Regions from separate parts of the Homo sapiens genome. Here region 1 is linked to region 2. The links come from fine-mapping of genetic effects on gene expression. A gene starts in region 2. The other region holds a variant in brackets. All regions are shown on one strand. Distances are between the middles of the regions. Region 1 holds the start of LOC105374171 (a long non-coding RNA gene). Region 2 holds the start of MME (membrane metalloendopeptidase).

Region 1 (16,051 bases), 100 kb before region 2:
GTTACATTAAAAGGCCTGGTAATCAGTTTCAAGGCATTCAACATTCAATAGAGAAACTGCAAGAAAGTGGGGAAAGTCATACATATTTTAAAAATTACCTTTATCTTTTACTCAGACAACCCCTAAATTGTCAACCAACTAAATATACTATACATTGAAACACACTTGATACTCAAAGTGTGGCCCATGGACCAGCAGCATCTCTCAGGAGATTGTCAAAGTGCAGAATCTTCCCTTGAGCCCAGGAGTTCAAGGTAACAGTGAGCCATGATCATGCCACTGTACTCCAGCCTGGACAACAGAGCAAGACTCTGTTTCAAAAAAAAAAAAGCAGAATCTTGAGCACCACCCAGGACCTACTGGATCTGAATCTGTATCTTCAAAAGATACCTAAGTGATTGGTATGTGACTTAAATCTTGTAAAAGACCTTCCAAGACCAGCAATCCTCAAAGTGTGCTCTCCAGACTAGAAGCATCAATTGGCATCAACTGAAAACTTATTAAAAATGCAGAACCATGTGCCCATTCCAGACCTACTCAGTCTAAAATTTTGGAGTAAGGACCAGTAATCTGTGAATCTGTGTTTGGTTTTTTTGGTTTTTTTGTTTGTTTGTTTGTTTGTTTGTTTGTTTGTTTTTTAGACAGAGTCTGTCTCTGTCATCCTGGCTGGAATGCAGTGGCACAATCTTAACTCACTGCAACCTCCGCCCACCGGGTTCAAGTGATTCTCCTGCCTCCACCTCCCCAGTAGCTGGGACTACAGGCGCCCGCCACCGCACGTGGCTAATTTTTGTATTTTTAGTAGAGACGGGGTTTCGCCATGTTGGTCATGCTGGTCTCGAACTCCTGACCTGGGCCTTCCAAAGTGCTAGGATTCCAGGTGTGAGCCACAGCACCTGGCCTCAGTAATCCGTGTTTTAACATACCCTCAGTGATTCTGATATATCCTCAATTTGGAGAATTTCTGCCTCTGGCCTTTTTCAATTTATATTAAAGAAGAACCATCTTTTGACAAAAGTTAATTTAATTCTAAATGTTTCAAGTGACTAAGAGAAAAATATACCTGTCTGGACAATTTTTAAAATATTGTGACAATGCCCACCAGTATTTTCCAAAGATATATCCTTATGATTTTATTTATGCACTAGTCAGAATTGATGAATGTGTATGTTGAATACCATTTGCTAATTCATCTGGCATCTGGCAAAACCATATCACATTAATATGATGGATGATCCTGCTTCTTTGGAATGAGAAAACTTCCACATGGAGGCACAGTAATTATTCCTGAAGGAATGAACATAATGTAAACTGTCATTATGGGTAAGTTTTGTGGGCAAAGGATGCCCAGGAGAAAGGCATTATGTTAAGCCTTTATTCTCAGCAATGGTGCTCTGCAGCCTTGCTCCCACTTAAAGTCATTATCAGAGCTGCCTAGACCTTTCTGCCCTTTGTGGCTTTGGGCTTCATTTAGCGGGTTATGGGATGTTTCAAACCTCTACTTAACGCATTTGAAATATTTTCTACTTTGAAACTTTTTCTCCCTTGAAAGGCAAGGTAGCTATTAGCATCAAGAAGAAACCAAAATGAGCACAACAAATACACAAGTGTCTTTCACAAATGTAGCTTTGCCCAGATGAATTTTTAAAGGTATTTTATGAAGAATGTTAAAATACATGAAGTTATTTTCTAAGTCAACCCACCTAGCAATTTTATTTCTAGAAATGTATATTAAAATATATCCCCAGATGAATATATAGACATATGTACAAGAACATTCATTACAGCATAGATTGCTGAAAACAAGCAAAATGTCCACAGTCACAAGGAGTAACCAACCAGAGCAAGTTCCCCTGGGGAGGCCTCTGGTGTGTGCCAGGAACCAGCTCTTTAGTTTCCAGATTATGAGAGAAACAAGTGTATCAGTCTCCTAGGGATGCCATAATCAAATACTGCAGACTGGGTGGCTTAAACAACAGAAATTTATTTTCTCACAGTTCTGGAGGTTAGAAGTCCAAGACCAAGGTGTCCACAGGTTTGATCTCCCCTCAGGACTCCCTCCTCGGCTTGCAGACAGCTGCCTTCTGACTGTATCCTCTTACGACCCTTCCTCTGTTGGTACACATCCCTGGTGTCTCTTCCTCTTCTTATAAGGATATCAGTCATATTGGATTAGGATATGTCCCTAACGGCCTCATTTTAACCTCTTTAAGACCTATCTCCAAATATGTTCACATTCTGAGGTCTTGGGGAATGGAATTTTAACATACAAAATTTGGGGATACCATTCAATCCACAACAACCAGTCAGTCTTAGAGAGTAGCTGGGTCATAGAGGGTTATTTACTAAATGGTTCAGAAGTACTTTAATATTTTCAAAACTGGTACAGTTTTCAGTAAGTAGTGGCTGATTATTAACCCTGGCATGGGCTCTGAAACAATTGTAAAAACATGTGAAAAACCTTAAAGGTTAGAGGAGCCCCTTCAGGGACCTCCAAGATTGAAGATTGAGGCTAAGTAGGTGGGCTCGGAGACTATTTCTGGAATTTAGTTGTTTTACATCTAATAGACCAAATAATGTGCTGTGGTTATAAATATAGGATTTGGAATCAGAAAGAGTTTGCATTTCTGTTTCCTACCTGTAAAATAAAAATGATAATAGTACCTATCCCTAAGATTGTAAGCAATAAGATAATGATATAAAATGTTGATGATATGCCAGACTCAAAGTAGATACTCAATAAACAAGACATTATTGTACCTTTATATAAGCTTACTTTTCTAAATAGTCTTACACACATGCAAACACACAAACACACACACACACACAGTGTTCCTTATAACAAACTGTACTAGGCCTCTAAAGACACTTTTAGTTCTAGAACTCTTATTCTAAGTGATACTTGGCCACAAGTGATTCACAATAAAGGATTGAAATTTTTAAACACATTTATTGCTTTTATTATAAAAATAAATTGTGCTTTCCTACTGTATGGGAATTCTACTTTTAGCAGTCACATTGCTTGATTTAACTGGCAAGTATTAAAATAACAGTGTAGTGCTCACCTGATAAAACATTGTAACTTCTGTTAGATTACTTTTTATATGGTTATATTAGTAAACTGCCATTTATGTATTACAAATTGAATTAAGTAATATGTAATCATTAGAATAATGAAATATGTATTTTGCGTACCAATATGGAATAAACTTAAAGATGTATTAGTGATGAAAGCAAAGTACACAGAAATACTCAAGAGTATATGTTTTTTAAAAATAGGTTTTTATATTGTTTAAATTTTTACCATGTGTATGAATTACCTTTTGAAAAAAATAGATTTTCTCTCACAGTAAAATATAAAAGGAGAGAACAGATGCTCAAGATTCCATTTTCAAACAGAAATCGCAATCAACAGCACCAGTAGCAGCTGCTATTTATCTGTATTTGATAAGAGCAAAGCAACAGATAAAAATGAAAAATAAACTAAATGAAAAAGGCATCTACAGAGATCAAATTCCAGGCGACTCCCTTCCCACTTGCCTTTGTTGTAAGTTCCAGAATAGTTTCTCAGCACTAAGAAATTCTCTGATTTAATGGAAACAACAAAGGATGTGGCATCAGACTGAGCTGGGTTCCAATTCTACTCTTCTGACTTTCTAGCTCTGCAAACACAGAAAAATCCTTTTACCCTCTGAACCTCATTTTCATCAGCACACAAGCATCAAAATGTCTGTCCTTCCACCACTTAGAGTGGTTTTGAGGCTTAACTGAAATTACATGTATACAAGTGCAAGGCAAACAATATAGACCAATATGCACCTTTATCTCATTCATAAATTTCTATTTAGCTTGTGGGATACAGATACACATTCATTAATTCATTCAACAATAACAAATAGACCCTTCTAAATACTGGAACTAAAATAGATAGCAGAACACATTCATTCTCTGCCCTTTTGAAGCATAGACTCTCGTAGAAAGATAGAAGACAGAACAGACATCCATCACATTAAATTGTGGCAAATGCTATGATACAGATAGATAGGATACCCTAGAAATGCATATAAGGCACATATACTCACCAAAGATGTCTGGGAAGGCTTCTGGAGGAAGTCATGTTCAAGTGAGGCCTGATGAAAGAGTAGGAGTTCACTAAGTGACCCAGGGGAATGTCGTAGGCTTCCCACTGGCTTGGCTGACCCCTGAAAGATAAAACCTGACAGGTGAACAGTGCAAGTTGAGGGCTCTCAAAGCAGCTCCCCTTGCATTTGACTTGTTACAGCCAATCTCTTCCATTCCTCTCATGAAAGTAGTTGTTGGACACAATTAAGAAATGTGACAACGGCAGCTCAGAGAAAAGAAGTTGAAGGTCACATAGCTACTGAGTGGCAAAGCCAAGATTTTGATTGTCCCAAACATTTGAAACACTCAACTGATGGAATTTTTTATTTTTATTTATTTTTTATTAATATATATTGATCAGTGGAGTGTGTCTTATTATATTGAAATTCTGACTCAGCACTGGGTATGTCTAGGATTTCAGCCACACTGCAATACATAGAAGAGTGCTTGGTGCATAATAAGTATTCAGTAAATATCTCTTGAATGAATTAATAAATCCCAAGTTTGAAGGATCACTTAGAGGCATCCTTTGTCTTTTGAATAATTAATTCATGCTGCCATCCTTGAATTGAAATTAAAGCATTTTAAAGGTCTTAGGGAACTTCAGAATCCTCCCAAACCAGGGTGTTTTGAAACTGGATTGGATCTTATTTCTTTCTACAAAATGCTAAGGAGGCATCACGGCATGTAAAGCCAACTCCATCAAGAAGTCCACTTGGGCTCTGAGATGTGTGAGAAATGACACTGCACAAGAGTCCAACTGAATAGTTCGGGAAATAGGCCAAAGGATTAAAAACAGTATCATGTAAGGATTAGGAATTTAGCTTAAGACATGGCTCCCTAGTATAACGTCAACATGACTCATTCATTTTGAGTTGGCTGAAGAAATTTTAGATGCATTTTGAAAGATCATCTGGCTTTCCTCTTACAACATAGATTTGATCCTTGCACCATCCAAACCAAACAGTCTAATGCATTGAAAAATGTGCCTGAGAAGGAAAAACAGAATCATCATTACTTTTTCTTTTTCCTTTTACCTGAAACCTAGGTGTGAGGTTCTTGAGAAATTAGTCTTATTACATTGACCAAACACTAATGCTTTCTGGAAAACTTTGTTCTTCTGGAATTGCACAGAGTATACTTTTAAACATGGCATCTGCATCTTAGATGCCCTATTTTAAGTCTGATTAATCTAATCCGGGGAGGTAAATTAGGCCCTTTAGTAGTCTATTAACTTTCTCCTACCCCGAACGGAAAATTTATTAAATTATCTTTATGTGTTCCAAGAAAGCAAACTTTGAAACTGGCCAGCAAGCTTGTAAGAGCCTAATGACGATCGCGGCATGAGTTTCCATCAGCTTTTGGTGTTATTTTAATACAATCCAAATGTAGACTTAAGCTATTAGTGTGTACTCACGTTCTCTCTCTCCCTGTGCTTGTCTCTTTCTCTTCCTTAAAGTACAAACACATGCACACACTGCCACTTTCTCTTTCTCAACACACACAGGCTTGAATAATTTCTATTTATTTCTCAGTTCTACTTTCCTCTCAGAATTCCTTTCCTGACCCCCAAATCTAGGTTCAGGTGTTCCACTAATGCACTCTTACTGCAACAGCTAACTTGTCCATCTCTACACTAGTCTGCAGACAATATGACGGGGACTGTTTTTGTAATTGACCTCTGTATCCCCTGGGCCCTGGCAAAGTACCTAGTATGTGGAAAGCACTCAATACAATTTTGTTAAATAAGGAAATGAATGAGTGCATTAATCTAGCCCTTGTATGCTTAGATCTGCCAAAAGACAAAGCTACAACAAATTTATCTTAAAGATCTCAATTGGCTTTATTGCATTTTTAGAATTGGGCAACACTTCATTCCATAAAATAGAATAAGTGTTCCAATAAGCTGAGTGGAAGGGTTTGGTTTTATAGACGGAGAAGAACTGAAGAAAGCAGAAATGTAGAACAAAATGTGACTGGTCATTTCAAAGCTATTTCCCTTGTAAGGCAGGAACAGGGAAACAATAGAGAAATAACTGATTGCTTAATATCAGGTTACTTCAGGTTACCTTCCCTTTAAAGATTAAAGGCAGAGGGAACTTCATTATCCTGTAGATTGAAACCAGTCTGTTTGGGAAATTAAGCTGTTATCTCTCCTTTTGGGCTTCTCCAAAGGTTAGATAACCACTCAGTTTTGGTTTGGTAATGTGGAACCACAGCGTGAGCGACTCCGTTTTGATTTTTAGTCTGATCTGTTGGGGTCTAGTGTAGGAGTGTAGCTCAAAACAATGGCCTCCTATAATTTTTTATTTACCAGAAATAAAAGGAAATATACAAATGTAATCCATTCCTTGATGATCCTCTATCAAGAAGTAAGTCTTTAATTTCCCCAGTTAAAAAAACAATTCATCTTCCTAGAACCTCTGGAATGAACAGTTTTAGACCCCAAAGTAAAAAATACATACAGTCAAGCTAACTCTGTTTAATTAAATGTTTTCCGTAAGTATTGAAAAACAACTTTTGAGCAATGTGAATAGCTATTGTGTACAAAAGTTAGGTAGAATATAATATTATCCTTATTTTTCAGCAATTATATATTTACAATATATACTTGTTTCACAAAACAAGAGAGAAACAGGCAGATTTTTTTTACTCCCAGTTTAGTGGCTCTTCAATACAACATGCCACTAACAAAAAGGTATTAGAAAGAACCAAAAGAAAATTCAAAATTCAGAAATGGCACAAAAAGATGATCTTTGTTGTAAACAAGAAAATAACAGAAGCCAATTTCTACAAGTATGCACTAAAACATATAGGGAAAATACCTTACATCATAATTTAGTCCCTAGGACCAATTTTGAAAGTCAAAACTTCATTTTATACCTCTGCATTTCACAAGATCACATACCAAGGAACATATGAGGTCTTCAATTCTTGGGAACTAAGTCTGTGGTTTACCGCCCAAGGTCTCTCCCAGGTTTTTGTTATCACTGGCAACAGAACCACTGTTGGAAGCCCACTGCAGAATTAAGAATTCACACAATCTGAAACTGCTTATGTCAGGCCTTTCATAAGGGTGAAAATAATATTCAACAACTTTCAGCATGTGCTTACCACATCTGCACCCATTTTGGGTCAATCAGAAAAAAAAAATGCTGGAAAGAAATAAGCCACCCATTCAGAAGTAAAAACAGGGAAAGCCAGCTGCATACAAACCCTGCAGATTGTGCTGATGAGATCCATGGATGGGCAGAAAGAGCTGCTTCAGGAAAAGAAAATCTAACTTCTGAGCAAAAAGGCTCAGAACATAGATAGGACAAAAATGCTCTCCATTAAATGCAATTCCTAAGAATTCAGGGAATGTGTTTTATTCTATCCCAACAGTAATCACAAAATAGTCTTTCTTTCTCATATGTACTGATTGATTCATTGATTGATTGTACCCCCTCATCATGTTTTTTATTGAAAGAAATATGGAGAAGCACAAAGAAGTAAAGATTTTAAACAATCACTCACTATCTCATCACTCAGTAATATCTGTTATATGTCCACTGATGGCTAAAATCTCACCCACAATTCCTCACGGCCATCAATAAATTAGAGAGAGAACTTTTTCTATTAAACTTTCTTCCAAAGAATTCATGTCAGTTCTTTCTACAATCAAACTTCTCTTTCAGTATGAGTTTTTAATCAGCAA[A/G]ACAAAACTCAAGATAGAATCTAGTGTATTCCATAGTTGTTCAAATTGTTTACAGCTTAAGTTTCTCGCCTTTGCACTGAGTGAATTGAGACACAAGTATGCTGGAATAGGAATAGATCTGAATGTTTAGAGGGGTCCAAGCTCACACTGGTGTCTCAGAGATATGAGGGAGATAGTTGAGTCCCAAGGCATACCTCCAGGGTCTAAATGATGAATCACCTCACGTCTGCAATTGATCTGCCTTCTTTGCTGTTTGCTCATTAGGTTAGAGTTCCAGGTTTAATTCTGGCATAAACCAGTTACTTTTCTCTTTCCCAAAGGCCACAGAGAGCAACATTAACTGGTTGTCTCTCAAAAGGTGCCATTCATTAATGAAGAGATTGGGAACGATCATCTAGATGCATTTGTACAAAATAATCCAGGTAGGAAATGGACTCTTCTGATGGTTATTCCATCTCAGGCACATTATCTACATTACATAATGTACTCCTAAGAGTAGAATAATTGTTATTATTATTAGATGAGAAAATGAGATGCAGGGAGATTAGTAACTAATGCAAGACAATACTGCTGATAGAATCAGGATTTAAGACTCCAAATCCATGCTTTTCCCACTATATTACCTTACCTGGCTGGGGAGAACAAACCTCAAATATACCTATTTGATGATAAATGTGTGAGAATATATATATATACACACACAAACATATATATATACACATATATATATATAAAGTAGGTATATTGTGTATGTATATCTCACAGTGACTCCAAATTTTTATTTTTATTTTTATTTTTTGGAGACAGGCTTGCTCTATCTCCCAGGCTGGAGTACAGTGGTGCAATCTCGGCTCACTGCAACCTCTGCCCCGTGGATTCAAGTGATTCTCCTGCCTCAGCCACCCAAGTAGCTGGGATTATAAGTGCACGCTACCACACCTGGCTAATTTTTGTATTTTTAGTAGAGACGGGGTTTACCATGTTGGCCAGGCTGATCTCGAACTCCTGACCTGAAGTGATCTGCCTGCCTCAGCCTCCCAAAGTGCTGAGATTACAGTTGTGAGCCACCATGCCCAGCCGACTCCAAAATTCTTAAGGTCCTATAGTACCAAAGTCAAAATTCCCAGGGAATTTTTAGTAAAACACATCAATCTCATATCTCTATGTTATTTATGTAAAAATGGCACCTCTATTTATATGGTTTTCATGATAATTAAACAAGAGAGTGGCGATGTGATGTATACACTATAAAGCACCATGAACACATAAAACATTATTGTTTGAAAAGTCTTTGAGGCCTTAGTTAACAACAACAACAAAAAAAACTCTGCAAACAATAAATCAATCAGTATTGACAGTGAAGTTCAAAAATGTTTATATTTCTTCTAAACTATCTGGTGAACATGCCTTTTAAATCCTTGTTCAAGTCACTCAATCCATAACAATTTATGGAATCCTTTTGTATTTTGACAATAAGTCTATACACATACAAACCCATTTTCCTTTTGTGAGATTTCCGTAAGTCATCTGTCTCTAAACCTATCTAGGAATGGAAGTAGAATGTATCCAGCAGTTCAAGTTGTCATTAGTCATTGCTATGTGATGTGGGATAATGCCTACTCCAATCTCTCTACAAGCTAAGAAGAAAATCGTTTTCTACATTCTCCTTGCTGGACCTCTGGATGCACAGAGGGAGAGCAGACATGACTGGCCTGGTCAATAGAAATATTTACTTACCTGATGGCATGAATAGCCAAATGAGCTAAAATTGGCCATGAAAACTGGTTTCTATGAATAATACTAATACATTTCCTGGATCAAAACTCTAAAAGGCTGAGCTTTATAAGGGATAACTGACATTTCCTTAAAAATTGCTCAACATGACATGTACTGAACCTGTCAAACTGCTGGGAAAATTACAGAAAATAAATTTTAGGGTGATTGGCAAAATGGCTTTGGGAAAATGATTTATTATTTCCAATAAGGAATGAGAAGGTGAAAAATGAGATGTAAAAAGACAAAGAGAAGAACAAGAAAGGAAAATGGAAAAGAAGAAAAGAGAGAGAAAGAATGAATCCCATGCCAACTTAATTCGACCATCCACTATCGTATGCAAAGGCCCAAGTAAGGTACTTGGGAGGCTACAAAGAAAAATAAAATGCATCCATGCAACAAATTCAACAATTATTTATGGAGCTAGGAAAGAAGCAACTATCTAATATGCCACAGCAACTGGAAATATATCTAAGATTACCTGAATGAAAAGTAAATCAGAAGTGTACTTGAAAAGTAATCTGTTTATTTAAACAATTGTTAAAAGACGATATTTTCTTAAAGAAGCAATCTTGGTCTTTTCCTGAAACAGAACTGGGTGATGGCTGTTACTTGTGTCTAATCAGATTGGCCCAGAACCACCATGCACAGAGAACATTTCATCATCTTTTAGCAGGGCCAACGTCATATAGACAATTTAGTGGGGATAGTAACTTTCCAGGGGTTTTCTGATTTTAGCATCATACAGCGCAGGGATAAATGAGCTGTAGTTTCCCACATTTAAGTTCTAAATTCAGCTATGTCACTAATTACCCTTGAGATAATTACAGTAGATGACCCAGCATTTATTTTTTATCTTAACAAGATTTTGACTCAATACATAGTATTTTCAAATATTATTTTGAAAAAAAATCTCTGAAATAATTATATAATGAACATTCAATTCTTAGATCTTTCTACTTTGAATAAGTAAATATAAATGTATTTCAGTTAAAAGGCTTAAGAGTAGGATGAGTCAAGAATAACGATAGTCATGAATCACTTAAGAACAAGGATACATTCTGAGAAATGTATTATTAGGTGATTTTGTTGATGTAAAAACATCATAGAGTATACTTACACAAACCTAGATGGTATAGCCTAAGACACACCTAGGCTATATGGTTATATGGCTATATTGCCCCTTAGCTATAAACCTATACAGCATGTTACTATACTGAATACTCCAGGCAATTGTAACACAATGATAACTATTTGATAACTATTTGTGTATCTAATTGTATCTACACATATGAAAGGTACAGTAAAAATACCATAATCTTATGGGACCATAGTTGTATATGTGGTTCATTGTTTGTCAAAATGCGATTAGTGGCACTTGACTGTTTTGTGAACATGAAAGAGCAACTGGCCTACAAAACTTCATTAAATTGTTCCTATATCTTCTTGACCATATCCAAAAATCTCCCAGCTAAGCTTCAAATTTAAGTGTATGCATTGTTTTAAAGAATTGCTGCTGGGTGCAGCGGCTCATGCCCGTAATCCCAGAACTTCAGGAGGCTGAGGTGGGTGGATCATCTGAGGTCAGGAGTTCAAGATCAGCCTGGCCAACATGATGAAACCCTGTCTCTACTAAAAATACAAAAATTAGCTGGGCATGGTGGCACACGCCAGTAATTCCAGCTACTAGGCAGACTGAGGCAGGAGAATTGCTTGAACCCGGGAGGGGGAAGTTGCAGCGAGTCAAGATTGCGCCACTGCACTCCAGCCTGATGACAGAGCAAGATTCCATCTCAAAAAAAAAAAAAAAAAAAGAATCAGGCCGGGCGCGCTGGCTCATACCTGTAATCCCAGCACTTTGGGAGGCCAAGACGGGCAGATCACGAGGTCAGGAGTTGGAGACCAGCCTGGCCAACACAGTGAAACCCTGTCTCTACTAAAAATACAAAAAATTAGTAGGGCGTGGTGGTTGACACACCTGTAATCACAGCTACTCAGGAGGCTGAGGCAGGAGAATCACTTGAACCCAGGAGGCGGAGGTTACAGTAAGCCAAGATTGCACCATTGCACTCCAGCCTCAGTGACAGAGTAAGACTCTGTCTCAAAAAAAAAAAAAAAAAGAAAAAAAGAATCACTACTATAAAACCACAGGAGTAATATCAAAAAAATGAAGCTGCTCTTATGCACTGGTTTCCAAATGAAGCATACAGCTATATTTTGGCTGAACAAAGTTCAAATGTTTCTGACTTTATTTCTGCCAAGATTTATTCAAAACATGTTTCTAGTGCTGCTGGGAAAGAAATTGTATCTGGAAAAGACAATAACTAGCACTATAAATAATGAATAAATGAGTACAAATTCCCAGGAAACACCTCAAATTATTCTCTGTAAATCAAAAAGACGTGTGGTTGAATTCATAACATGTATATTTTAACTTGCTTCATTAAAAAGCATATTTTCTCTAATGGTAAATATGTATACAGACTCTAAGTATGCTTATCTAGTCCTCCATGCCCACTCAGCAATATGGAGAGAAAGGAAATTCCTAACTTCCAAGGGAACACCTATCAAATATCAGGAAGCCATTAGGAGATTATTATTGGCTGTACAGAAACCTAAAGAGTTGGCAGTTTTACACTGCTGGGGTCATCAGAAAGGAAAGGAAAGGGAAATAGAAGGGAACCGCCAAGCGGATATTGAAGTAAAAAGAGCCGCAAGGCAGGACCCTCCATTAGAAATGCTTATAGAAGGACCCCTAGTATGTGGTAATCCCTTCTGGGAAACCAAGCCCCAGTACTCAGCAGGAAAAATAGAATAGGGAACCTCACGAGGACATAGTTTCCTTCGCTCAGGATGGCTAGCCACCGAAGAAGGGAAAATACTTTTGCCTGCAGCTAACCAATGGAAATTACTTAAAACCCTTCTCCAAGCCTTTCACTTAGGCATTGATAGCACCCATCAGAGGGCCAAATCATTATTTACAAGACCAGGCCTTTTCAAAACTATCAAGCAGATAGTCAGGGCCTGTGAAGTGTGCCAAAGAAATAATCCCCTGCGCTGCAGGCCATACATTTCAATCCCTGTATCTTTAACCTCCTTGTTAAGTTTGTCTCTTCCAGAATCGAAGCTGTAAAACTACAAATAGTTCTTCAAATGGAGCCCCAGATGTAGTCCATGACTAAGATCTACCACAGACCCCTAGACCAGCCTGCTAGCCTGTGCTCTGATGTTAATGACATCGAAAGCACCCCTCCTGAGGAAATCTCAACTGCACAACCCCTACTATGCCCCAGTTCAGCAGGAAGCAGTTAGAGCGGTAGTCGGCCAACCTCCCCAACTGCACTTGAGTTTTTCCTGTTGAGAGCGGGGACTGAGAGACAAGACTAGCTGGATTTCCTAGGCCGACTAAAAATCCCTAAGCCTAGCTGGGAAGGTGACCGTGTCCACCTTTAAACACGGGGCTTGCAACTTAGCTCACACCCAAACCAATCAGAGAGCTCACTAAAATGCTAATTAGACAAAAACAGGAGGTAAAGAAATAGCCAATCATCTATCACCTGAGAGCACAGCAGGAGGGACAATGACCGGGATATAAACCCAAGCATTTGAGCCAGCAATGGCAAACCCCTTTGGGTCTCCTGCCTTTGTATGGGAGCTCTGTTTTCACTCTATTAAATCTTGCAACTGCAAAAAAAAAAAAAAAAAAAAAAAAAAAACCAAAAACATTTTCTCAAAAAATGCTTTATACAGTCTAAATGATCACTTTAGTTCAATGTTATTTGTATCTAACATCAGTTATGTGATATCAGCTTATGTTTTTCTAAATATCAAAGGGAACAAAATGTTATTTCAAGGGTTAAAACAAAAGCAGAATTTGCCCAGATCCGCCATGCACAGAGAGCATACATCACATGGTAACAGGGCCAACATTACATAGATTACAAAGATCCTCTTTATGCACGAAGAGAGAGGGGAAGTGAATTATTGTAGAAATGGTTTCTGTTAATTAAAGAACTTTTTTTATTATTAATTATTTATTTTTTTTGAGATGGAGTGTCGCTCTTGTTGCCCAGGCAGAAGGACAATGGTGCAACCTCGGCTCACCACAGCCTCCGCCTCCTGGGTTCAAGCAATTCTCCTGCCTCAGCCTCCTGAGCAGCTGGGATTACAATCAAATGTAGAATTAAATAATCAAAAAAAGGATTGAGCCTTTCCATTTTATAGCAAGCTATATGACAGCTACCAAATATTCTAGAGCAAATACATCTTGGAGAAATAAGGAATGGAGGGTCTATTTGTCCCCTTGTGTGGGCTTTAACCACATAGAAAGCCCAGTTTCTCATTTAATCTAATACATTTGCACCCAACAAACCCCACAACCTTGGAGGCAGATCAAGAACTTACTACTATCACCCCTCTAGAAATTTGAGCATCACTCCAGTCTCCCAGTAAGTTTTCTCAAGAGGAAAAAGAGAAAATATTAAATACCAACATAATCACCTGTAAAGGCTGTTTGTTTGTTTGTTTGTTTGAGAAGGAGTCTAGATCTGTCACCAGGCTGGAGTTCAATGGTGCGATCTCAGCTCACTGCAACCTCCGCCTCCCAGGTTCAACCGATTCTCCTGACTCACCCTCCTGAGTAGCTGGGATTACAGGCATGCACTCCCACACAGAGCTTAGTTTTGTATTTTTAGTAGAGATGGGTTTCACCTTGTTAGCCAGAATGATCTCGATCTCCTGACCTCGTGATCCACCCACTTTGGCCTCCCAAAGTGCTGGGATTACAGGTGTGAGCCACCGTGCCCAGCCAAGGCTATGTTTTTAATCAAGTTTTTAATCACTTTAAATAACAGATAATAGCCTTATTTGGATTATGATGATGATAGCAGAATGTTTTGTGGGATATTTTTGACTATTTTACTTTTTAAATGGGTCTGTTACAGTTTTATTTTAGTTTAATTCTCTTGAAATGTTTTTATGAAGCATCTCTTTTGTTCCAGGTACCATGAAAAGACACAGCCATTAACATATGTGTTCAACTAAACACAGAGCATTGACTTGAAACAGTACATGATCAGAATGAAGACAATACTATAAGGAACTACAGGGAGAAACTAATATTGTCAGGGTGGAGAGGATAATGGAGAAAACAAAGAAGGAGGCATTATACCTAGGACTCCAGGGAGAGAAGGAAACAGGCAAAGGAGCACATGAACATGAAAGTTCTGGTGTGTTGACACACGGGTAAGTGAAAGGACATTAGGTTAAAAATATAGTTATGGGCCACATTATGAAAATCCTTGAATGTCATGTTGAGGAATTCAGACCTTATCCTCCCTACAGTCAAATTTGTGGGGGATGGATAGAAACATGTAAAACTTTTACTATATTTTATATATTCTAAGATGTACATTTTTCACTTTTTTACAATTCTGCCATTACAATGCATCTTTCAATGGATAGTTCTACAGTAGGAGTTGTGACATAATTGTCATTGTCTACACTTGCAACTTATATTTTCCACCTTATGCATGCACAGGAATGATACATAATAAAAATCTGACAAAATAAGTCTAAAAGAGATTACAAGTATAAAATGAAAAAGTCTAAGTGATAAGAATTATTTTATAGCTTAGTTGGTAGCACTTTTTTTCTGGTTTGGTGATACATAAAATGAATATGTGGTAGATTGCTTTAAATATGCACTGGTCATATTGTGAAATGCTTAAACAGGGAATGGCATGATCAAATTTGTTTCCAAAGAATATTTCCTGTGAAATGCTAGTGGATATACTGGAAAAGGGAGATGTGAAGTCCAGTGACAAAGCTGAAAGCTATTCTAAGTCTAGACAAGAAAAGATGGGGTATGAACTGTAGTCATGGCAGTAGGGATTCTAGCAAAAGAGTCAAGATGCATTTTAACAGTATAGTTGATAAGAATCAGTGACCATCTTGATGTCATCTGATGAGGGAGAAGGACTTAACAGTAACTTCTTTAAGATTTTATGATGTTGTTGTTTGTTTTTGTTTGTTTACTATTGTCTGAATTCTTTATTCATTGAAATCAAAGTTCTGGTGTAGGGAGACAATCTTGTAAATAGTCATGCTGTCAAAAAAAAAAAGGAAATGAAATGTCTTTCTCCCTCTGGTTTTGTCAACAGCCCATTTTATAAGAGCTGTCATTTTGATCGATCCACATAGTCTTTATGACTTTGAGGATGACCTGTGGCTAGCACTAATAATCTGACCCATAAAACCACTCATCCAGACAACCAGCTGAGCCACCAGCTTAAATTTCCCAGGAGATTGACCTTTGCACCAAAATTACTGGGGAGACCTTTGGAACATCTGTTTTATTTCCAGGGTCATTGGTATTTATTTGAGGAACTAAAGTCATGATCTTCAACATCCATAACTTTCTGACACCAAATAAGCCTCCTGATGGGGCCACAACATGGA
Region 2 (16,051 bases):
TATAGTAACAGAGAGGCAATCAATGGTTGCCTAAGAATAAGAGATAGGTGGGGAAGAGCAGCAGGGAGACATCACCAAGGCACAAGAGGTACTTTTAGAAGGTGACGGATAACTTTATTATCTTGATTGGATGACTCTTTCATGGGCATATACATAATAAATGTCACATTTTATTAAATTATACACTTAAATATGTGCAGTTTATTGTTATGTCAATTACGCATTAATAAAGCTGTTGAAGCCAAAATAATTCCTCCCAAAACTTGAATATTTTAGGCTGGTCTGACACGGTGTCACTGGTGTCATGATATCAGCTACATTTTTTTGTTTCTATACTTTTAACTACATTTCACATTCTAACAGGCCTAGCATAGCATGTGCTAAAGTAGCACAAGTTTTATTAAATTAGGCTTAGCAGGCATAAAATCTGAAAATACAGAATTTTGCAGACCTAGAGAGTTATTGAAAGTTTTTGAACATCTGAGTGAGTAAAATATTCTGAGTTTCTATTTAATCGACCAGGAAATAATGTGAACAATGAATTGAGATCAAGAAAAGATGAAATAGTGTCTTTCTAAGGATAATGTTCAAAATGTTAGTATAATAATCCAGGGAAAATAAGAGAATAGAATTTCTGCTGCCTAATGTTGGCTTTGGAAATAAAGTGTAGGGAAAAAGATTCAAGAGATCCTGTGGAGTTGATAATGCTGAGATTTGTAAATTCATTGTTTGTTGGGGAATAATAAAGGACTCATCGAAGGCCACTGGGATGTGTCAAGCCTAGATGAACTGGAACAAGGCTGAGCCTGTAAAGTATATAGGTTTCACGAGAGCATGGGTTTGTGAAGCATTCTACAAATGAAAGGAAAAGGGGGGAATATGTTGGACTAATTTTTGTAGGTTTGGGAGTTGTCTGCCATGAGATCAAAGCTGAAATAATGATATGGATAAAAACAGTCAAGGAAGAAATTCTAGAAAGAGAGAGATGAAAAGAGAAGAAATGATGCTTTATTTAGTAGGCAAATGGAGGACAAAGAGGAGGGAGAGACCAGTACAATGTTGTAGAAGCTAAGAGAACTGAAAGTTCAAGAAATAGATGTATTAAAGATTAAGAAATGTCATCAGGCTAGAAATAACAGAGAAAATTAAAGATGCTTTCAGTGAGAGGGATGAAAGAATTGATCAGCTCGTGGCAACTCAGAGTTGAGAGAGGTTTGTTAAGGCCCAGGATGACTGAGCTCACAAGTGAATGACTTGGAAGGAAGATGAAAATCCCAGTAATTGAAGAGCACTAACCTGGCCCTTTTTCTTTGAGACACCTTCAAATAATATTATTCGTATCATTCCTTGTTATAATGTGAAATTTTGCCTTAGCAATTTATTCATGATATTACAGGAAGAGAAACATTGTACTTTATGGAGAACCCTTCTTATTTTATTAACACCTACTTAAATAGTGACTGGAGAAATTAATATCACCCTGAGTTCCTAGGCAGGAAGAAACTCACTGGGTTTCAAATGAGTAAAAAGCAATACCATCAGATTAATGGACTAGGAATAGGCTCCATTACCTTCAGCTATTTTAATATCCTAGTACTCAACAAGAATGTGACTCCCTTGCCCTTGTCCATGTGATGTTGGTTAACGTCAGCAGAAGGACCTTATTGAGAACTGCCTCCCTACCCAGCCCCAGAAGCAACAGGAAATGGGTATGACCAGAGGGAACAGGAAGAGATTGTTTTCCTTTTGGAATGTAACTGCCGCCTCTACCAATAACCACTAGATAAGACAGGTGGACGATGCAAACAGACAACAACTCTCCTATAAGAATATAGTTAGTGTGATTGAGACAAAAGCAAGACAATCATATTGTTTAATGTTTTTGGAGCTATTTTTCAATTATATACAATATTGCACTAGTCAAATGGGCTCTCTTAACACTTTTATTTCTTTAATTTTTCTGGCCTAGTTTTAAAATTTATGGTGCATTAATGTGCATTGAATAAGCTTTTGTGAAATAACATCCTAAATCACTATACTTGAAAAGATTTCTTACATTAAAAGCATCTTGTGACAAGGAGCAGTTCGTTTCTTTAGGATTTGACTTTGAGATATTTTAAACAGTATAATGAAAGTATACACCAGAAGCCACTATGTACATACATCTGCATAAACAGATCAGGATGAGTTTTTAAAAGTGTTCTTTTTGCTTGGACTTAAAGGATCTAGGTAAATGCAATAATCTGACTTGGTAAGAATGCTTGTGGTAAGAATGACCAGCTGATGAAAAGGATTAAGAATGATGGGGTTCAAGATAAGCTTTATCTTTGCAAAAGGATTGGTACGGTATAAAGCATAAATAAATAAAGCATGGAACATAAAAGTCTAAAATTTAGATATTTCTATTTCACCTGGCACTTTTCCTGGAAGCATTAAGGATCCAAGAGAAGTTGGGAATTGATTACATTTTGAATATGATTTTTTCAAGTTAAGACATATACTTTCCCACTCAGGAGTTGCTTAGAAGACGCATTTCTTCACCTTGCTTGTCCTAGTTTTGATTATCTGGAATCCGCACCTCTGCCAAACATCAGAGTCAGAAAGAACCAGAGATTTAAAGGTTAATCATGCCAAAATTGAGCAGATGTCCCCCTGAGAAAAATCTGGGGTGTTTGGGTTTATTCCTGTGGCTGCTGCTGTGTAGTATTCAATACCCTGCTCTCGCCCCCAGAGTCAGGGCCACAGCTGTCCACAGGAAATGCATCAGAGAGGTCTAATGTGAATGAATCATATGCACATGTTCCTTGGTATGTGGTGATGGGCATACCAAGGGCTCAAAATCAGCCCTCCCTCCAGGCCAGAATTGGTTCCAGGCTTGTGAATGCAAACTATCCACACAAGTTGTGCTGTGAAACTACCCTCCTTTCCCGTTTCTCTGCGTATTGCCAGTAAAGGAATTTTAGTGTGTTGCTGGGATGAAACACATAATCATCTGGGAGACATGAGGGGATAAGCATATCTCTGTAACTGAGCTTAGTCACATCCTCATACGCGTAGCACGTGCAGCATGTTAGGGAGGGACTTTCCTGCCCGACCGTATCAGCACATGGAACAGTTTAGCCAGGGAATAGGCCCAATTCTATGTTTTGAAATTTAATTTTCAGTCACTCAGCTGTAGTCAATTGAAAAACTGCTTAGTGAGTGACTGTTTTCAAATAATCATTTGGTAATTATAGGGTATTTTTTCTTGAATGAAATTTGGAGGTATAATATTTCTGAGTCGTATTTCTCCCATCATCACAATTAATTATTGCATTTGGCATGTAACAAATATTTAGATGTTTTACCAAATTGTCAGGAGTGGCAAATATCTCATTGTATGACAGTAATGCTACAATTTCAACAAGATGTCCATCATCCTATCCACAACTCACCACCACCACCACTATCAAATGTTCCCTATCTCAATGAAGTGACAGATCTATCCAGTTGCCTGATACTGTAGGAGTCATTCTGGATTCTTTCTACTTTACTTTCAATATGAAAAAGTCGCTAAGTCCTATGGATTTTACCTCAAAAATCTCTCCAATTGCCTTAGATCACTTATTTATTTTTAAAATATCTCTCATAAGAATCACTGTCGGCCGGGCGCGGTGGCTCACGCCTGTAATCCCAGCACTTTGGGAGGCCGAGGCGGGTGGATCATGAGGTCAGGAGATAGAGACCATCCTGGCTAACAAGGTGAAACCCCGTCTCTACTAAAAATACAAGAAATTAGCCGGGCGCGGTGGCGGGCGCCTGTAGTCCCAGCTACTGGGGAGGCTGAGGCAGGAGAATGGCATGAACCCGGGAAGCGGAGCTTGCAGTGAGCCGAGATTGCGCCACTGCAGTCCGCAGTCCGGCCTGGGCGACAGAGCGAGACTCCGTCTCAAAAAAAAAAAAAAAAAAAAAAAAAGAATCACTGTCCTAGCCCTTTAACAGATCTCCTTGCCTCCATCCTTTCCCATCCTCCTCATTCCCATCAATGCAACACAGGCATTATAACGGACACTCCGACTTTATTGCTCCACTGCACAAAATTCCACCATGCCAAAAAGAGTAAACACTTTTCCATCACATGCAAATCTACTGTAAATGCTTGTTTGCATTTTTCTTACCCACTAAACTGTGGATTCCCTGATTACATAATCATTACATCTTCTGTTTTCTTTGTATCTATAATATTCTACACAGAGTTTTCTTGCTTTTTCATTCAACATTATTTTTCTCATTTGCTTAGCTGCAACTGGTTATTTTGTATTCTGTGTAGTTTAGCTGCAGTTGGTTTGTTTGTTTGGTTGGTTGGTTTGTTGGTTTGTTTAGGGCAGTTGGTTATTTTGTATTCTGTGCAGTATTCTATTTTATGAATGTATTACAGTTATCTATCCATTCTCCTATCAATGGACTTTTGTATTGTTTCTACTTTTTTGAAAATTATTATAGACCATGCTGCTACAGAATCTTGCACATATCTGCAGGTTTTTTCTGAGACTGCACCTAAAGGTAAATTTGTTGGGCTGTAAGTCATGTGTTTCTTTAAAAATTCTGGATAATATAAATGTTTTCTAAAATTGTTTACCAAAGTTTACCAAAGTTTAGTTTTTTAAAAACTATGTTGGCCTCTCAAAACTTTTATTAGCCTATAAAATGTAATGTTTAGAGTTATCGTTTCCTTGGAAATCAATAGGATCTCTGCTGGAAAAAGTTCATTTGCATGGTTTTAAACAAGAATCATTTGTATTGTTATGTTTCCTACAAATTACTAAACTAATCCATTTTTATCACTACCGGTTTCCAACAAGGGCAAATTTTTCCGAGTTGTGGAATAGCTTGGTCAATGAAAAGTCAACCGAAGGTGCATATCCCAATAGAATCACATAATCTCTGGAGGATCTACTAGCCAGGGATCTGCAAACTACAACCAGTCAGCTAAATCCAATAGAGGTCAGTGGCCCATTTCCGAGCCTACAAGTTAAAAATGATCTTACATTTTTAAGAACAAACAGACATTAAAATGAAGAATAAATAGAAACGACCACAGCACAGGAGATGTGCAGTCTCATTAATTAATAAGTAAATGCCAGCTAAAACTCCAAATAAAACCAAGTCTTACTCACCTGACTTCTTATACACCACTAATAGAAATATCAATTTAGACACTAATCAGTGCATGAAGTCTACTAAGCCTTGTGCACCACATTAATTTGCTGTAAATAGAATGTTTTAAACAATAGTAGTGGGTAATAATAAAACACAATGACATTAATTTTAGAAAAGAGTATCAATTTGTACAATCTGCCAGAAGAGGAAAAAAAAGTGTCCTTGTAAAGAACAAAACCAATTATTGGCTGTCTTTTCAGTAGAATTCTGGCCATTTATTATCTGTATCAAGCCAGATAATAAATGTTTTAGGCTTTAAGGATGATTTAAGTCTCTGTTGCATATTCTTTTCTTGCCTTTTTTTTTACAATGCTTTTTTAAGGATATATCTATATATTTATACCAATGCCTATCTGTCTATCTATCTATAGGACTGTAGATGGGTCTTTTAAGGTTGTGTTTTCTCATGTTTTTCTCTTGTAAAAACGCAATTAATTTTTTAATATTGATCTTTTATCCAACAATCATATTACTGTCTTATAAATATGAGTAATATTTTGTAGATTACTTTGGTTTTTCAGTATTGATGATCATACTACATAATTTACCAATATTTAATTAGTTATTTCTTCTTTTCTATTGACTTCTCTTCATCTCTCCTTCCTTTTCCTCTCTCTCTCTCTCTCTCTTTTCCAACTACACCATCCAGGCCTTCTAACACAATACTTACTACTGAACTCATATTTAATTTTAATTTGAAGGTAAAAGAAAACTATCTCTGGTCATTTTTATGTACTACTGCATTCAGTTTACTTTCTTAGGATTTGTTGTTTTCTTTTTCTAACTTTCTAAGTTATATGCTCACCTCATTAAATTTTAGCTTTTTCACTCCAAAATAAAATTATTTAAGGCTACAAATTTTCTGCTATTGATAGATACCTCAATTGACATATATTGATAAGAAATATTTTTATTGCATTCAGTTATAGGTTTCTTCACTTCCGTTATGATTTGCTCTTGCTCTTTGATTTATGTGTGTGTGTGTGTTTCCTTTCTTTCTTTCTTTTTTTTTTGAGACAGAGTCTCACTCTGTCACCCAGGCTGGAGTGCAGTGGCATGACCTCAGCTCACTGCAATCTCCGCTTCCCACATTCAAGCGATTCTCCTACCTCAGCCTCCTGAGTAGCTGGGATTACAAGCACGTGCCACGACACCCATCAGATTTTTGTATTTTTAGCAGAGGGGAGGTTTCTCCATGTTGGCCAGGCTGGTCTCGAACTCCTGACCTCAAGTGATCCTCCCGCCTCAGCTTCCCAAAGTGCTGGGATTACAGGCATGAGTTACCACACCTGGCCAATTTATGTGTTATTTTAAGGTGTTTGTGTGCATTGTTTAACAATTTCTAGATATATATGTGGTTTTATATTTATTTAATCATGTTAAGGTCCAAAAATGTGTTATGAAAAGTCTTTGAGATTCACTGTAGCTTATTTAATAGTTTGGCATATAATCAATGTTTATAAATATTCCATAGGTGCTTAAAAAAATATACAGTCTCCAATTCTTGGGTGAAATGTTCTATATATTTCTATTGGATTATCTTTTAATATTGTTATCCAGATCTTCTATATCCTTACTGATTTGTGCACTTGACATATCAAATATTGAGAAAGGTGTATTAAAATCACCCATTAACATGGGTGATTTTACCCTTTTAATTCTTATATTATTTTTTGTAGTATTTACTTAAAATTTATGATACTAGATGTAATCAAGCTTAGAATTTTATCAATGTTATCAGCCTGCTGAATTGATTAATCTCTTTTTTTGGTAAAATTTTAGTTTTATTACAACTTTACTATACCAGCAATCCTTCACTTATATTTGTTTGATATATTTTTTGAACTATTTTACTTTCAACTATGCTATAGCCTTATGTTTTAAGTGTGTCTCTTTTAAACAGAAGACAGCTGAATTTTGTTTATTTGTTTGTTTTATGCCAATCTGTGTCTTCTAACTGGAGAATTTGGTCCAATTATATTTATTGCAATTAATATATTTTGATTTATTTCTAGCATTTTATGTTATACTTCCTATATGTTCTTCTCTAATACTTTTTATTTTTCTGTCCTCCTTTAGATTGACTTATGTTTAATTTTGTTTTTTCTTTCTGCAAAACTTGACCTTATGCACTCTATTTTTATCTTTTTTGTGGTTGTATTAGTACTTTTTACATACATAATTAACCTAATAAAGTCTAAAGTATATAATTAATCAATATCATTATCCTTCTTTCCAACAACATAAGTAAGGACTTCATTTTATTTATTTAGCCAGGGTCTCACTATGTTGCTCAGGCTGGTCTCAAACTTGGGCTCAAGTGATTTTCCTGCCTCAGCCTCCTGAGTAGCTGGGACTACAGGTGCACACCACCAGGCCTGATTGAGTAAAGACTTCAGAGTGCTTTAATTCTAATTAAACTCTCCCAGCTTACACACCCCGTTGTCTGGTTTTTTAGTTGATCTTTTTTATCACCATTCTTTTATTTTTGTTAATGTTTGCTTAGATTTATTTATGTTGTTACTATATTCTTTGCTTATCATTCTTTCTCACATATCAGATCTTCCATAAACTATTATTTTGCTTCCTAAATTCATTCTCAAGAAGTTCCTTTGGTTACAGTCAGTGGTGGGAAGTTTTTCAATTTTTATTTTGAACAGTCTAGCTTGGACTACTTTACCATAGATCTTTAACTTGGAAATACTCAGGCTACACAATTAGTATAAATTCTATTCCTACATCCATTTGAAGTCTGGCCAAATCATGAATTCTTACAGAAAGTTTTTGTTGTAAGTTTACCAGCCTGAGTCAGGACTGAAAAAAGCAAGTATATCTATGTTTCTTGTGGAAGAGTAGGGGTGAGGAGTCGGAGTTGGGGCTGAGTTTCATTTTTTGTTAGCCCACATTTTCACTTTGCCCTGGACTACACTTTGTATGAAGTCCCTTGGCACTTGCAAGTCCTGTTAAAGTGAAAGCTCTAGGTCGCTTAAGTCCAGTGAGGCCTCTTGAAATGGATAGATACCACCAGGACAGCTACTGTTTTCAGCACTCACATATCCTTCTTGATTTTTTTGTCGGTATTACAAGAAAGACATCTTGATCCAGACCCCAAAAGAGGGTTCTTGGACCTCTTGCAAGAAAGAATTCAGAATGAATCCATAAAGTGAAATCAAGTTTATTAGGAAAGTAAAGGAATAAAGAATGGCTACTCTATAGGCACAGCAGCAGCATAGGCGGCTTGACTGAGTAAACTTACAGTTATTTCTTCATTATATGCCAAACAAGGGGTAGATTATTCATGAGTTTTCAGGGAAAGGGGCAGAGATTTCCTGGAACTGAGGGTCCCTCCCCTTTTTAAACTATATAGGTTAACTTCTGGATGTTGCTATAGCATTTGTAAACTGTCATAGCACTGGTGGTAGTGTCTTTTAGCATGCTAATACATTAAAATTTACATATAATGAGCAGTGAGGACCACCAGCGGTCACTTTCATGGCCATCTTGGTTTTGGTAGGTTTTGGCTGGCTTCTTTACAGTATCCTGTTTCATCAGCACAGTCTTTCTGACCTATACCTTGTGCCAACCGACCTCCTACATCATCGTATGACTAAGAAGGTCTCACCTCCTGGGAATTCAGCCCAGCAGGTCTCAGCCTTATTTTACCCGGCCCCTATTCAAGATGGAGTTGCTCTGGTCCAAATGCCTCTGACAGCTCTCTTTGTTTTTGGCTTCTAAGATTTTCTTTTACTTGCCTGCTGGCTCAATGGTGCATATAAAAATGCACTATAGCATTTTTAAAGGACTTAAAAAAATTCATCAAGCATTTGTGTCACACACAGTGGTTTTTAAGGATCCATTCTGCAAACTGCTAGAACCAATGCATTCCATTCTTAATAACTTATGTATGGCCACCAGGAGGGCTACTTTCTCCTCCATTCCTATAAGTGGCCAAACTGAGTGATCTTGGACCACCTCAGTAAGCCTCAGTTGTCTAAATTTACTTACTGTAAATAGTTGGGGACTCTTTAAGATCCCTTAAAAAAATTATCTCAAACTTGCACAAACTTCTGGGAGGAGATTTAGCATTCTTGATTTAAAAACAAACAAACAAACAACAACAACAAAAACCCTAAGTTTCTAATCAACTTTAATGAAATCAAGATATTGTAAGGGAGATGTGGGTAGTCCAAGCTACTTAAGAGGCTGAGGCTGAAGGATTGCTTGAGCCCAGAGTTAGAGACCAGCCTGGGCAACACAGTCAGACCCTCATCTAAACAAAAAAAAACGAACAACAGCAACAACAACAAAAAACAGAAAGAAAAGAGAAAAAGAAAAAAATATTTGTTCTGGGAAACCAGTTACCAATCCATACTGTCGACTATCAGCTGAAAGTCAGAGTCTAAAATTAACTCTAAGTAGGCATTTTTTTTTTCTTTTGTCATACATTTTAAGTAAATCCTTTTTTTTCCTTTAAAAGAGTCCTCACCGCCAGGCATGATTGCTAACACCTGTAATTCCAGCACTTTGGGAGACCGAGGTGTGTAGATCACTTGAGGCCAGGAGTTTGAGACCAGCCTGGCCAATATGGAGAAACCCCGAAAGTAAAAGTACACACACACACACACACACACACACACACACACGCAAGCAAAATTAGCTCGGTGTGGTGGTGCGTGCCTGTATTTCCAGTTGCTCAGGAGGCTGAGGCAGGAGAATCGCTTGAACCCAGGAGGCAGAGATCACACCACTGCACTCCAGCCTGGGCGACAGCACGAGACTCTGTAGGAAAAAAAAATTCCAGTTGAGATGCTTTCCAGGGCGCTAGTCAAGCCCCGCATGCTTATTTGTGGGAGTGAAAACACCAATATTTCGGGATTGTTGTGAGGACTAAATAGTGTCTGTAAGATGCACAGAGAAAGCGTAAATAGACGTCAATAGCACTTGTTAGGTCTACACACTCCATTTTTCCTCTATATTAATCGAATTATTTAAAGATTGGTTAGCTTTTTGGGGAAATGTCTCTCCATTGTATTCCACTTATTAGGATGAACTACCTTTTCTCCTTGCTTTTCAGCTTTCTCTGCTATGAAAAAGATGGAAAATTTTTTAGCACAAGGGGACTCTTCTCAAGCAGCAAATCATTTTGATATTAAAAACAGATAATTGCAAACCCAGTTTTATTTCAGTATGAATTCCGCAGTGGAGTGTGAATATGTGTGTGTATGTGTGTGTGTGTGTGTGTGTGTGTGTGTGTGTAATTACCTGTGATTCAAAAGAGGAAAGGGATCAGTATTAAAGGTACTTGTACACTGGAAGCAAAAAAAAAAGGAAGTTTAGTTCCTCTGAGCTCCTTGGCAATTATAGCTGCTAAAGGTAGCTTTTACAAAGAAACTGCCTTTGTGCCTAAAGTATTTATTTCCTTGTTTGTATTTACCCCTTTGAGGAGGAATCGCTGTGTCTTGAGTGAAAGGGGTACGCTGCTTGCTTGCATTAAACTGTGAGGGTCCAGGCGCATTACGGCTGATTTCAGTAGGTAGAGCAGACACACTTTAGTTTATTTTTCTCTTTCTCACTCCCCACCCTCAACCTCCGATGTACACACGTTTTAAGATTCCCTGAAGTCAGGAGGTGGGAGCGGAGAGTTTCAGTTCAGATCTTGACATGAGAGTACTTCGACCAAGGAAAAGAAAGGGAAGAAAGAGGGAAGCGGGGTGGAGAAAGCAGGAGCAAGGAAGGAAAGAAGGAAACGGGGAGGGAGAGTAAGAAAAAAGAAAACGAAGGAGGGAGGGAGAGAGGACATTTAAATGAAGAAGGAAGGAAGCTTGGATTCAGGGAGGAAAGGGAGCGGGAAAGAGAGCGAAAGAAGAGCGTGAGAAGAGGCAAGCATTATAGTCTCCGGTCCACAGGGGAGAGATGGAGCCCCCTCAGGACTAGAGAATCCCGAAGAGCCCGTGTATTGTTTTCTTGAAAGCCCCGAAGCTAAGCAATTCTAAAAATGTTTAGCAAAGCCCTTTTGGGAATGGTGAGATGGGGGGTGGGGAGGATGGGACATTTTCATTGCCACCGCCCGCCCCCCGTCTCCCCGGCCCCCTCACATGAAGTGACTGGATTTGGGAGACCTAGCGGAAACCTTCAGGTCACCCAGGGAACTGCTCCTCTCTCTGGTCCTGCAGCGGCGAGGCGGGGTAGGGGGTGGGGGGGGTGGGCCGTGAGAGCGCCGAGACGCGCGGGGCGCGGAGATGTGCAAGTGGCGAAGCTTGACCGAGAGCAGGCTGGAGCAGCCGCCCAACTCCTGGCGCGGGATCTGCTGAGGGGTCACGGTGAGTCTCTGTGGGTGCGGGTCGGAGGGATGCCCAGGTGCCTCGTCGCCCCACGGCCCGGGCGGAGGCGGGTCCGGAACCTCCCCCAAGTCCGGCCTCAGCCTGGAGCCCGCGCGCCTTGGGCGGATGCACGGACTGAGAGGCGCTTGGCTGGGCTCTCAGCCCGCCACTGCCACCCGGCCCCGTGCGCTCATTGGTCGGGATGTGTCGGCTCAGCAGCCTCCAACTTCTCCCGAATCCCACTGGTGAGTCCCAGGAGAGCGAGCTGAGGGAGAAAGGTCCAAAGGGCGCGAGCGCCCAGGGCGCTGGGAGCCCGTGGGACGGGCACGGGGAGGGCAGAGCCAGCCGAGGGGAGCGGCTGCCGGGAGGTGCGCTGAGCAGGGTCCGCAGCTAAGGTCCAGCGCGATCCGAGCGCCCAGGACCCTGCGGCCGTGGAGGAGGCGTGCCCTGGGAAGGAGCCGCTACTGGGACCTGAAGAGTGAGGGGAGGGAGAGGGGCCCAGAGGGTGACCTGGAGGAGGGCTCTGGAAGTCACGTCAGGTTGGCTCTTCAGGTTCATTTCCATAGTTCCCTGCGGCCTCTGCCTTGGGGAGTTATGTTTTGTTACCGAGATCCGCGCTACCAGATTGCACCGGGGCTGATTTGGGGGCTGGGAATTTGCCATTCTGCTGTACAGACACTGATTTTTTTTTCTTCTTTTTAAAAAGCAAGGTTTGTTTTCATTTTGGTTTCTGTCGGATTTTCTCATTTGTAACTCACTTTTCTATTTTTACTTTTCTTAACCGGAAGATCTTTTCATTATCCCACCTCTTCATCTTGCTTTTAACCTGATTTCCTATTATATAATTAATGCTTAAATCTCACAAGGGTTGGTCGGTGCGGGGCTGGTGTGTCCTTTTGTAGATGAAAGTTTAAGACCTCTTAACTGGTTTCAGTCTATTTGTCTGGTTTCAAAATAAGGGTAATTGCAACCAAATATCCCTCTTTAGCTTCTCGATCAAGTCGATTCCTCCCCCATATATGATTCAAATGGCAATTTTATTAAACTGAAAACTAGTACCTGACTTGCAGCGTCAGCATTTGGAAAGTGCTTGTCGGCAAATCGACTGTATGAAGGCGTGTAGCTTCATCCCCTGCCATTTTTGTGGGTTCTAGCACTTTAAAAAATTGTCTGGTAATTTCTTGGACTTAACCCTGTGTCTTTGGTTGTAGAGCAGCACTAACCAGGGGAGTAATATGGTTGGCACTTCGTGTCCAGAACTCCGTATTTCAGGCTGGGAAACACCTAATTAATGTCTGGGAAACAAGAAGATGATTTATCCTGAGTACCTCTGTCCTCAGCTTCTGCAGACACAGTTTAAATATGGAAACTGTTTCTCCTTCTTCCTGTGCCTCAGTTTCCATAGAACAAACTGTAATTGCATAGCACAGCTTCAGGAACCTGCAGATATAAGTTAATGTTATAATGTGCAGTGAAGATGAAAACTGCTTAGCTAAGTCTAAGTCTGTAAGTCAATGAGATTTCCTTTTTAACAAATCAGTTATCCAGGTTTCCTGCTTTGACTGTCTGATATAGTAATGCTTATGCTCAACTGGTATAAGAATTGCTGCTTTACATTGCTTTGAAATTAAGCTTACACTTAAAATAGTAATTTATTCTGTTGGTAATATTGTCGAGCTGAAGTTTGCAGGTTCTTGTTATCTTAGACCTCCTAATTCTCTATTCTCGTCTGTGGCAGTGTCCACTTTTCCGTTTAAACTTTTTATTTAACACATCTTCAGTTGAAGTGAAATATTTTAAGAATACAGGTATGTTTTTGCGTACCCTGCTTTATATGGGACTATAAGCCTCAACTTGGTATTTTTTTTTTTTTTGTATTCTTTTGTTTACTTGTCCCCCTTACTCTTCTCTATGGGATTGGGTGTGGTTAAGTTGGATATTCAGGTATTTGGGGTTTAGTCATATGTTCCACAGTGAGATTCCAGATACTGTCCCCTGATGTCTTAAAGAAAAATTGTGAACCTTCCAGAATTAACTGGAAATGAACGACAAAGTTAATTAGGAGATTAAACTTGCATCATTTCTGCTTTTGCTCAATGCTTTTGAAAAAAGGCTACTAAGAGCAAAAGACTTCCTTTAAGAATTTACAGGGCATTTACAAGAGGGGGAGATGGAGGAAGACTTTGCAGGTGATTCAAAGATTATATTGTTTTGATGCAGCTTCTGTCACTGTCTTCATTTCTCTGTAACTGTTTCTGCAAACTTGGGTGCTGACCCATTAAGAGCCCAGCTGCTTCAGTACCCAGTCTCAAGGGTAAGGAGGAGAAGCCAAGGGAAAGTAACTTACAGGGAGAAAGAAATGCTTATCCACTAGCTTTACTACACCACAAGGCATGGAGTTTCCACAGAGCACCTGTAATTTAACCCTGAGGCTGCCCTGGTTCACCCCTTCGCTTTACTTTACAGGGACACTGACTGTCATTTCTAAGGAAGAACTAAGAAAAAAAAAAGTCCTTTTATACCAGTAAAACATTTCTCTACATTGTCTTCTGACATATGCGGGGGGAACAATATTCAGGAAAGGGAAATACTTTAGCAAATGTGCTTAACATTCAGGTGTTCTTTAGGACAGTCATGAAACATGGGGAGACTGGGAGAATTATTATTGTTTACCTCTCTGTAAAGTGTCCAGAGTATTATTAAATTTGTTCCCCTCTTTCCTTTGCCCAACCAATACACTATTAAAATAGGACTACAATCAATGCAATTCCATATCATAACCCCAGGGGTGGTGAGACTAAGCCAGCATGCCTTACATAACCATTAAGTAAGACATTTTAACATTCAGGTACATTACATTCCACTTTTATTTAGCAGACACGGTTTTCATTGTGTAATAAAATATTTTTATTTGATAGTCTGTCCTTGCTTATAGCCTCATGTAATCAAGGGGACAGCATGTTTAAGACTTTGTATCCAGAACTTTAAGGTCTAGCTGTGGTTCGCTTATTAATAATTCACTGGGAAGGTTAATTTCTAGTTTTCTGCTGGGTCTCCCAGACCATACTTCAAATGTAGAATATGTTTCTTCTTTCTCCTATGCCTCAGTTTCCACAAAACACACCCTTAGAGAATTGTGTGTGTTCAACAAAGATCTTTAACTATAAGAGCATTTCTGAGCCGCCACTTCATCCTGGGACCAAATTCTAAGAGCAATTTGTATTGAGCTATAAACAGCTAATCTGCTAGTTTAAGATGTTCTTTTATACAGTCATGCAGAAAAATGGAAATTGTGTGTTCTAATCCTTGGAGACTGGCTGATAAAGTGTCACTAGGCCCCTGATGAAATTTAATATTTAGGCTTATATCCCCTTAATTTTCCCCCTAAATTTCTACAGTACGCTTTTACTGCATGATGATACAGCTTTATTTTGAACAGTGACCAAATGTGTTCTTTACAAAGAATATTGACGAGTTGTGTAGTCTTGAACACGTTGCCTGACTTCTCTGTGCCCCAGTTTCCTAATTCTTTATTCTATTCTGTGGCAGTGTCCACTTTTTGGTTTAAAGTTTTTAACACATCTCCAGTTGAGGTGAAAGATTTTAGGAATACAGGTATGTTTTTGCATACCCTGCTTTATACAGGACTACAAGTATCAACTTGGTAACTTTTTGTACTATTTTGTTTACTTATCCCCCTTACTCCCCTCTTAAATGGGATTGGGCGTGGTTAGGTTGGATATTCAGGTATCTTTTGGTACAGTGAGTGACCATTTTCAGAATGTTGTCTAACCAGTTAATAGATACTGGTATCAGTAGTAGTAGTAATTTTGAACTGTAAAAATAAAGGTTGTTTTTATGACTAAAATAAACTACTTCATGTGTTCATTCGTTTTGCTGTTTATCTATATTAATATTTCAAATTATTGCTTAGTCAAAACCTCAAGGTATTAGTCACTGGTTTTTGAGCTTATAAAGGAAGCCACTGGAGCAAGATATAAAATTAACCATTGATGTTAGTCCAGAGTTCAAAAGGGTGAGTTTAAAACTTTCTTAATGATGGTACAGCAATTATTTGCTTATAAACTGCTGAATTAATCCTACTTGAGTATTTAACCAAGTCTTACTGTCTAATTTTGCTGAGATTTTCAGTGATATACCAAAGCAAAACAAAACAAAACAACAGCAACAAAAAACAAAAGGTTGTGACTGAGACCTGTCAAATTCATTTGGCTCTATATACTTTGCATTCAGCAACAAAATTTTGACTTCTCAACAGCAAAAATGTATTTCTATTTTAAAATAACTGAGCCTTTTACTTTTATCCAGCCACATTAAGCATTTGGACATTTTCTTTTTTATTTATTTGTTTTTCATTATTAGTATTTTCATTTTTTGCAGATTTTAGGTGATGGGCAAGTCAGAAAGTCAGATGGATATAACTGATATCAACACTCCAAAGCCAAAGAAGAAACAGCGATGGACTCCACTGGAGATCAGCCTCTCGGTCCTTGTCCTGCTCCTCACCATCA

The links.
Region 1: its variant is fine-mapped to the expression of MME in whole blood (TOPMed, PIP above 0.99).

The regions. Positions count from the first base shown.
Region 1 is chr3:154,966,021-154,982,071 of GRCh38, forward strand. LOC105374171 (a long non-coding RNA gene) reads right to left here and starts at 4,245. Exons shown (of 5, transcript XR_001740568.2): 1 at 4,083-4,245. The variant A/G (reference allele first, on the strand shown) is at 7,820.
Region 2 is chr3:155,068,238-155,084,288 of GRCh38, forward strand. It overlaps MME (membrane metalloendopeptidase), which reads left to right and starts at 12,082. Exons shown (of 23, transcript NM_007289.4): 1 at 12,082-12,229; 2 at 15,921-16,051. The coding sequence starts at 15,931.